Regions from separate parts of the Homo sapiens genome. Here region 1 is linked to region 2. Evidence: fine-mapped expression QTL. Tissue or cell type: whole blood. Region 2 holds a variant in brackets; the other region holds the start of a gene. Each region is shown on its reference strand, or each on the opposite one. Region 1 holds the start of LMOD1 (leiomodin 1). Region 2 overlaps BCL11A (BCL11 transcription factor A).

The links. PIP is the estimated chance that this variant, and not a neighbour inherited with it, causes the effect.
Region 1: it holds the start of LMOD1, and the variant in region 2 is the best candidate, but not a certain one, in a credible set for the expression of LMOD1 in whole blood (TOPMed, PIP 0.89).

The regions. Positions count from the first base shown.
Region 1 is chr1:201,944,056-201,948,443 of GRCh38, reverse strand. It overlaps LMOD1 (leiomodin 1), which reads left to right and starts at 1,896. Exons shown (of 3, transcript NM_012134.3): 1 at 1,896-2,364. The coding sequence starts at 2,104.
Region 2 is chr2:60,495,867-60,500,254 of GRCh38, reverse strand. All of the region lies in intron 2 of BCL11A (BCL11 transcription factor A), which reads left to right. Among named protein-coding and RNA genes, the nearest start is that of BCL11A, 56 kb to the left of the region's middle. RefSeq lists enhancers at 52-261, 2,685-3,294 and a silencer at 902-971. The variant C/G (reference allele first, on the strand shown) is at 1,939.

The DNA.
Region 1 (4,388 bases), not on the chromosome of region 2:
TTAAATCATACTTCTATTCAGCCTCCTCTTGTTGTGTTTTCCCATAGCCCCTGTGCTTGCTCGCTCTTTCTTTCTTTCTTTCTTTCTTTCTTTCTTTCTTTTTTGAGATGGGGTCTTACTCTGTTGCCCAGGCTGGAGTACAGTAGCGTGATCACAGCTCACTGCAGCCTCAACCTTCTGGTCTCAAGCAATCCTCCCACCTCAACCCCCTGAGTAGCTGGGACAACAGATGCTCACCACCACATCAGGCTAATTTTGTTTTTTTTTTTTTTTTGGAGAGATGGGGGTCTCATTATGTTGCCCAGCCTGTTCTTGAACTCCTGGACTCAAGCAATCCTCTTGCCTTGGCCTCCCAAAGTGCTGGGATTACAGACATGAGCCACTGCACCTGGCCTGATTTTGTATCTTTAGTGATATCTCTTGCTCTTAGAACAATGCCTGATATATAATAGGCACTTGATAAATCACTCAATAAATATATACCTACGGTTTGACCAATAAGTTGGCTACTGACTCTTAAAATGACAACCCCCAGGTTTCCCTAAAGTCTTCTTCCACTCTTCCTATCAAGTCTGCCTGCCTTCCTTCTGCCCTTCAGTCCCCCCAGTGGACACCATTCCCCTCTTCAGCCTTAACCTAAAGTTGGACTAGTGGACATTAAATGGCACGGCCAAGTTTTAGTCCCAGACGATCCCTGGACTCAGCAAATGCTGATCAAGTGACTGTCTCTCTCTGGCTTAGGATGGAAAGATGCCAGGAAAGATCGAAGCATCTACCCTGATGGGTTACACCAGGGCTTCTAGAAGGGATTTTGTGGCAGGAGGAAGGGGGGCAGGGGATTGAATGTCTCTGTGACTTGTGCAGGGCAGCATGATGGATGAGCAGTGGAAAGCCCTTCTATGAAACATGCCAGACCTGTTGCAATCGTATCTCTCCCGACGGCCCAGAATTCTGTTTCCCTGAAGACATACTAAATCGTGCTCTGGATTTATATGTGGGTGGTGACCTGCCTCTGTGCTCCCAAAGGAGGTCTGTCTACAGATGCCCGGCAGAGGAAGAAACAGATGACAACAGGGGGAGGTTTGAACCCTCTTCCCAAGAGCCTTGGAACTTCATGGAAAGTGACAGCCCTTTAAGAGTTTCCCGACTTCTGCAGATCCTTCTCTCTTTCCCAAACAGCCTGCCAGTTTTCAGTTTTGGTACACAGTAAGGATTTATTCTCTCTCTCTCTCTCTCTCTCTCTCTCTCTCTCTCTCTCTCTCCCTCTCCTGCCTAGCTATCTCTATCTCTAAGTTTGTCTTTCTGTCTCCTGTCTCTCTCTTAAGAAGTGGCCAAAGGATCCTGGAGCCTCTGATGCTCAGCCTTCAGGTCCTCCTTGGCAGAACCTGGGTAGAAAGAAAATGGGTAGGCAGGGGGTTAGGAGTAACAGCTCCTCATCTTGAATCTAGACTTTCCTGGAGCTGTATACACCTGGGAGCCCCCCAGCACATTACCAAATACTGTAGAAGGAAGTCCATGAACCACACATTGACCACAGTGATACGTCCACCCGGTGATGGAGTAGTAAAATACGCTCTTGAACGTGCCCCGGGCTGGCGAGTTCACCGGCCCTCATGGCCTCGTCCCTGCTTGTCTGGCTCTCCGTGGCTGTGATCTGCTTCTGCCAGCCTACGCATTTTTGTATCTTTTTCTCATTGCGTGGCCCCTTGTCTTTAAAAGGCTAAACTGCTCTGTACTAAATTTGGTCACGCAGCGCTCCAAGATTCCCTGGAATGTCCTCAAGTTTCAAACAGCTCTGACAGCGAGGTAGGCCCGCCCCCAGCTTGGGGATTGGCTTCTCCTCTCCGGGCCTGGCAGTTGTCGGGTCTTATTGGCCGCTGATTAGACCAGCCGGGGTCCACTAGCCCTGGGCTTCAGGGAGGCTGCTGCGTCCAGTGAACACTTCAGCACCTGTAGCACAGAAGGGCCAAGGAGCTGCAGTCCTCGACCAGCAGGAGGTTTGCTCCTCAGCCCACTCGCTGCATCCAGATCAGCTCACCCCTCTCCCTTCCCTGCCCACCAGGACTCTGATAGCCCCTGGCAGCCACAGCCCATTTTGCCAAGATGTCTAGAGTAGCCAAATATCGCCGGCAGGTGAGTGAAGACCCCGACATCGACAGCCTGCTGGAGACCCTGTCTCCCGAGGAGATGGAGGAGCTGGAGAAGGAGCTGGACGTGGTGGACCCAGACGGGAGTGTTCCCGTGGGGCTGCGGCAGAGAAACCAGACGGAGAAACAGTCCACGGGTGTGTACAACCGGGAGGCCATGCTCAACTTCTGTGAAAAGGAGACCAAGAAACTTATGCAGAGGGAGATGTCCATGGATGTGAGTGAGCACAGCCCTGGAGGGGAGGAGGGAGACAGGGGAGGGCTGGAGACCCTGGCTTCATGATTAGGATGCTTCCTTCCTTAGAAGAAACGTTCTTGTTGGCAAAGGATTTTAATGCTTCAGAACTGATGATTATCCACTGAACTAGCGGTGCGAATCTCTTACTCCTAATTTCTGTTTTATAAGCAGAAGTCGGATATGTTGGAGGAACACAACATCCCACAAAATCAAATAGAGCTACTAGTAGAATGGGAGCTGGAAGGTGTCCTTGAAGAGTCCATTGTCAAGTTGACTCCATCCTGGTCCCACAATACCTTTGTTTTTCTCCACACTCATTCCATCCTATTGTGAGGAGGGGTAAAAAGAGAGAGTGATACTTTATGTCTCCTGTCAGCCACCCAAAAAGACAAAGCTAAGCCATTTTTTGTGGGAGAATAACTCATTTTCAAGTCCCCAACCCTATGGGCATCTCACGGCACATGGATCATTTCAGGAGGCTTGGGGGTAAATGAGTTTCCCAAAGCAAAGGGAGACAGGGACCAGGAGTCTATGGGCTGGGAAATGTGGCTTAAAGACCTGATAAGCTTCAAATTTATTCCCAGGGAAGATGTTTTTTGTTGTGGTTAGTTGGTTTTTGGTTTTGTTTTGTTTTTGCACTCTCCAGAGGAGCCTCTGGAGGGAGCATGCCCTCTTTTTGGTAATTAACCCTTTAGCAGCTGGCGAGGCCGCTTTGCTGGGGGTTGAAGATAGTCATAGAGGAGGGAAAAGGGGTGACGGTTTTGGAAGCATCTGCCCACACCTACAATGGGCTTAAGCACAACTTGCTTTCTGTTTTCCTGAGTTGGCATGGAGGAATTTTTTTTTTGTCACTATTGCATTGGTATGTGAGTTTTCTTTGGACAAACTAGCCTCCGATGAAGTATGACTTTGTGGGATACCTTTGTCCATGGGAAAGAGTGTTGCATAGGAAAATTGTTCAAGTCTTTGTTCTAGTTCTCTTATTCAGCCACATCTCTTGTACATTATCCATTACTTGTGAATTCTTGCAAGAAAAAGATCAGTCTCAATTCTTGCTTTTTGTTTTACTTCTATGGAAACTGAGGCACAGAGCTTCAAATGACATGCACATTCTCACAGAGGAACTGAGAATGGGAACATTATCATCCAAAATGCCTGCGGAATGACTGGCTGGGTATGAAATTGTGTTGACTGCTAGTCACAGAGCATATTGGTGGACACAGCCCTGACTCCTTTAGTGTAGCAATGGGAAAGAAGGGAGGAGGAGGGAAGGGGGTGAAGCAAAGAGGAGCTGGAACTCTGTCTCTGTCCCTACCGCCCCCCCCCGCCCCACCACCTATGTTTAAGCCTTTGCCAAGAAGAGGGAGAAGGAGGGAGGAAGGAGGGAAGCCAGGAGGCTCAGGAATTTATTGTCCTGTATGCACAAGGTGGTTGCCCCAGATGCAGCTATGATAATGATAAATAAAACCAAAACATTTACAGAAAAAGTGGTAGCACTTACTGTGAGGGCCCGGTACCCCAACACAGCTATCAGGAATCATACAGAAAGAAATGAAATGCAGCCAAAGGCTTTGGCACCCTTGGAAATCGTTGACTCTGCTCTTCCCCACTCCCAGTCGCAGGCTCTGGGCCCATGACTGCCTTGTGTCCGGTAGCTTCCAGTGCTCAGAAAGGTACTCCTGAGGCTGAAGTCAAACAAAGCAGTCTAATCACAAGCAAGAGTGTGAAGGATTCTCCTGTTCCTGGAAATTTCACTATCATAGACTTTTTATTCAGCCAGTTAATACCGTGACAAGTGTCTCCTCCCCTGCCTCACCTCTCTCACCCCTGCCAGGTCCACACTTGGTTCTGCGGACAGAGCCCGAGTCAAGAAATAGAAGTGGTGTGTGTGTTTGTGTGTACATCCTTGATGTAAGGAGATGCCTTTAGGTCCGGTTTTCCCTTGTGGATGTAGGCTGTTCTGATCCCCTCACTCTTCCTCACCCTGTCCAGGGACGTACATT
Region 2 (4,388 bases):
CTCTCAAGACCACCGCTCTCACACACAGGTCCTGTGCTGCCCCCACAGCTTTGCAGGCTGCTGGTTTTCCATCCAGGGCACAGCCGCAGGCCTCTGGGCACCCTAGCCCTCAGTGCCCAGGGCAAAGCCCTGACATGCAATCTCACTGGCAGGCAGCCTCAGGCAGGCCTGGGCAGAGGACCGAAAGGAGGAGAGGAGGGAGGGAGCTACAGTAGAGCAGACAGGAGACAAACACCAGCTAAGAGTAAACAGCCTGGCAGTGGGGTGAGTGCCTGGCTGGAGGGGCTCACCTGGGCTGGCCTGCCTGGGAGGAGCCAGGTCGGTGGCTGCTCTCTCCGAATCTTAGTCCTGCTTGAGGTCTAGCAGCTTCCGGAGCTGCACATGGGGCTTGAGGTCTGGTGCTTATGGATTAGGAGGAAGAGAAGACAGATGGCAGAGTACCAGGCAGCTTAGGAACATGTCTCCTTCCACATGCTGTGGCCCAGGTGCTGCCCAGAGCTGTTTCACAGCAGCCTCTCCACTCAAGGTTGAGCGGTTTCCTTCAGTGCTGTCCACCCCTTTGGTCCGGGGAGCTTCATGTTCCTGGGCCTCACTGACACCTGCATGGGGTTGGTGGGGAGGTATGAGGGGTTGGAGGGGTCTTTTTGCTAGCCCTGGCCCGTGGCAAACACTGTCTTGAGAAAGTGGGACGTTGAAGGAGCTTGGACTCTAAAGTCAGCTACACATGAGTCTTTTCACCTGCTGGCTAGGTGGCCCCGGACAAGTCAATCAGCCTATTGGGCCTCAGGCTCTTTATCTATAAAATGGGGCTAATTTCCTTTTTTGCCCCTGGGAAGAAATATCACTTAGAGGAGTTACAGAATGTGCAACCTTTCCCAGGAGTATTGCTCCTGAAGGAATAAGGCACGATGGGCTTTGACTTCAGCCTCCAGCACTGTGGCCCAGAAGGGTATGGCTGGGCAGGGGCGTCACACCCCTGCAGCTCTGTGGGAGTGACGGAAGGGCGCTATCCACTCGCCTTGCACATGGCTGTCTTGCTCTACCAGGCCTTAGGTTCTGTGGCCAGATACTGTTCTCCAGCTCTTTGGCTTGGGCCCCGAGACCAGAGAAGATAATGGCAGCCCAGAAACCTGAATACTGGGGAACACATTGTAGGGTGATCTCCCAGAAAAGCCAGCGAGAAATGGACTGTAGCTGTAGCATTCTTCCCTTTGGATGCCTGTGTGGGGACAGAATCAGTGGAATGGAAAATGAAGAAGAAACACTGGCCCTGCCTCTCATCAATGCCCCCCCACCACCCACCACCACCACCTGCTTCCTGTTCTATTAGACAAACGTAGTTTCTGGATGAGTTGGACAGTCATCTGAGTTTGATCAAGATTTACAGGTAATTCAAATGTATGTATAAGGTACATACATATTAGTACATCCATCAGAGAGGCTTCCTTAAGCCACAAGTCTCTAGCTCCTCAGAGAACTGGCAGTCTGGCTGGGTCTGTACGAACTTGGACCTATAGATGACCTCACTGGTTTCTCCCCTTGTCACCTCATCTGCCTGCTTCCTTCTCTTTACTGATCTTATGTGAGTAGGTAGAGGGGTCAGATCACCTCTGCTCAGCTCTGCCCAGCACACTAAGCCTATTTGCTATTAAAATTTGAAAAACAAATGCAGGTGCCAGAGGTGGCTAAATAATGAATGTCCCAGGCCAATTCTAGGAAGGGAAGTGGGTATGGGGCAGCCCATTGCCTTCCTGGTACCAGGATGATGCAATGCTTGGAGGCTGTGAGCTCCCCACCTTCTCAGGGCACACCCTGTGATCTTGTGGGACCCCTCTGTCCAGCCCAGCCTGGGTGTGCATCTTGTGTGCTTGGTCGGCACTGATAGGGGTCGCGGTAGGGAGTTGTCGGCACACACTGCTGCATGTCCTGTGAGCGGTC[C/G]CCAAGGCTGTGCCCAGCCTTCAGTGTCCAGGGCCTCTTCTGACAGGCCCTGCTGGTTATCACTGTTGGCATTATCTCCACGCACCACTTCTGTGCCCAGGGCTGCTGGGTCACCTTAAGGAGCCACACACCCGTCTACATAGAGGCCCTTCCTGCTTGGGGTCTGACCCAGTTATCCCCTCCACACCTCCATTCTCCCAGACTTTTGACTCACCCCAGCCCTGCTAAGAGTGATGTCCTCCCCCAAAGAGAAGACCCCTGCTCTTGAGGGTCTGCCAGGTGGGTCCCTCATCTCCCCACCTCCATGGGCCTCTTGGATTTTGTGCATAGCAATCTCTGCAACACCCTGACCTTTATGGGGTCATCCTCGGCCAATGAAGCGGTGGGTCCAGGCTCCCCCTTCTATCACCTGGCTCACTTCCATCCTGCAGAGGAAGCTTGGTTTCATTTAGGACAATGTGCAGGATCCTTTTGATCATTTCTCTACTGGATCATCAGCAAAGGGAGAAATGAGACAAAAGAGGCCACTGAGTCCTTTGGGGGAAATATGTGCCTATAGTAAGGTGATAGTTCAGAGAAAGAGAAGAGTAGGAGGCTGGACCTGAAGGCCTTCCAAAAAAAGTAAAGGATGTTAAATTGCTCTGGAAGGTGCAAAGTGCCATCCAGTGGAAGCTATTATTATTATTATCATCATCATAATGGTCATTATCATCACCATTATAGGATATGGCACTGACGTAGGTAGTGACTGGTAAGAGCCGATTGAGTTTCTAGCTGATTCCTGATGTTAGGGGCCATGAATCTGTCTACCTGGAATGTTCTAATTCAATTCAGGAGCGGCAGTTTAAGTCTAGACTTCAAAGCACTCTCATATATCCTTGGCCTGCTAACCTGAGGGCTAGTTTCTAGGGATTGATTAACTTAAAGACAGTTCATATATGCTTGAATACTAGCTATTCATATTCTGAAAAATCTGACTTGATCAAACAGAGCAGTTAAAGGCGATGCTTCGTTTTACAAAAGATTTTCCCCCCTCTTTACAAAAGGATGCACAGTGGTATTCCTTTCAATGGAATGTTTCTCTAGCTCATTAAGTGTTTACAGGTCATTAGCTACTGCATGGAAGGACTTTGCTAGAGAAAAGGAAGGCTGCAAGGAAATAGCTCTAGCTCTAGCTCTAGCTTAGGGGATGCTAGCTAAAGGGAATTAGAATTGGTTGGCCAACAGGTGTCTGCGGTGTACTCCCTGTCCACTCAACACTGGGGGAGGAGTAGAGATCTTGCTTCCTTCCATGTGAGAGCTTATAGTCCCTTTGGAATCCAGATTTATCGTGAAGTAATCGTGAAGACAGAAATTAAGTGCTACATTGTGTTCACTCATCTCTTATGACTGTCCATGGGGAAATGGGTCCTGCTTTACAAAAATTCAGTTTGCATGCTGCTTTTCAGGCCTATGACTGTGACATCCAGTGAGGGAGATTTGAGGAAGGGGTTGATGTAAGACTCCTCTTGGGAGCATAGTGAGAGAGAGAGAGAGAGAGAGCACTCACAGTGGAACCTAGAGTGGGAAAGGCTACCTGGTGGCTGTCCTGGCATGTAAGTAAGTCTGTGTGGTCAGGGCTTGCATTCCATAAATGGCCCAGGCCCCTGCTGGCTGCTGGGAGAGAAAGTCGGTGAGGAGAGAGGGTTGTACAAGGCAGGAGAGATGTACTCACCAGGCTCTTCCAGAAGGGGTAACTGTCTCAAATCCTTGCCTTGAACCTGCAGCAAAGTGGAAGATAGGTGTTATCCTCCTCTCTTCCCTCTTTCCTGCTTCAGGCTACTCTGAACTCACTTTTGCTGTGTGTCCAGAGCTGACCAGAGGACAATGGCAGACTTATTGTCAGACTGGCAGCACCAGCCTAGTGCTCTGTCTCTGCCTGGGAAATGGTTTCACAAAGCTCCAGTTCTGCCCTGGACACTTGCCTCATAGGGCTATCCCTTTGCCCCTCAGTAACACCACTGGGATGGTCCACTCCCACCCTGTCCCCCATCTGTGGTAGCCTGTGTTGCCTCGTGGGACAAGGCATTCTGTAAACGTGTATTGGACTTCCATTGCTTAAGTCATGATTTGTTTTTCCGACTTCCAGAACTTTCCCGGTTCTGGTTTTCTGGGATTTCATGAACAATTCCCTGTTTCCGTAATCCATTTCCTGCACAGGTGCATTGCTTTCAATCATCTCCCCTCCGGTTATCCTAAAGCCTTCATTATCAATTGACTTTTCACATATGAGGGTGACCTCTGGATCCCTTCTCTTTGGTTTGTTTGTTCTCTTTTCCAGAGCTGCAGTATGTTTCTTAGGTGTTTTAAAAAATAGCTAAGAATAGTGAAAACACCCTTGTAATTTAGAGACTCTCAGAAAAATGACAGCACCATTTAGAGCCTGGAATTACAGTTTGACTTCACTGTGC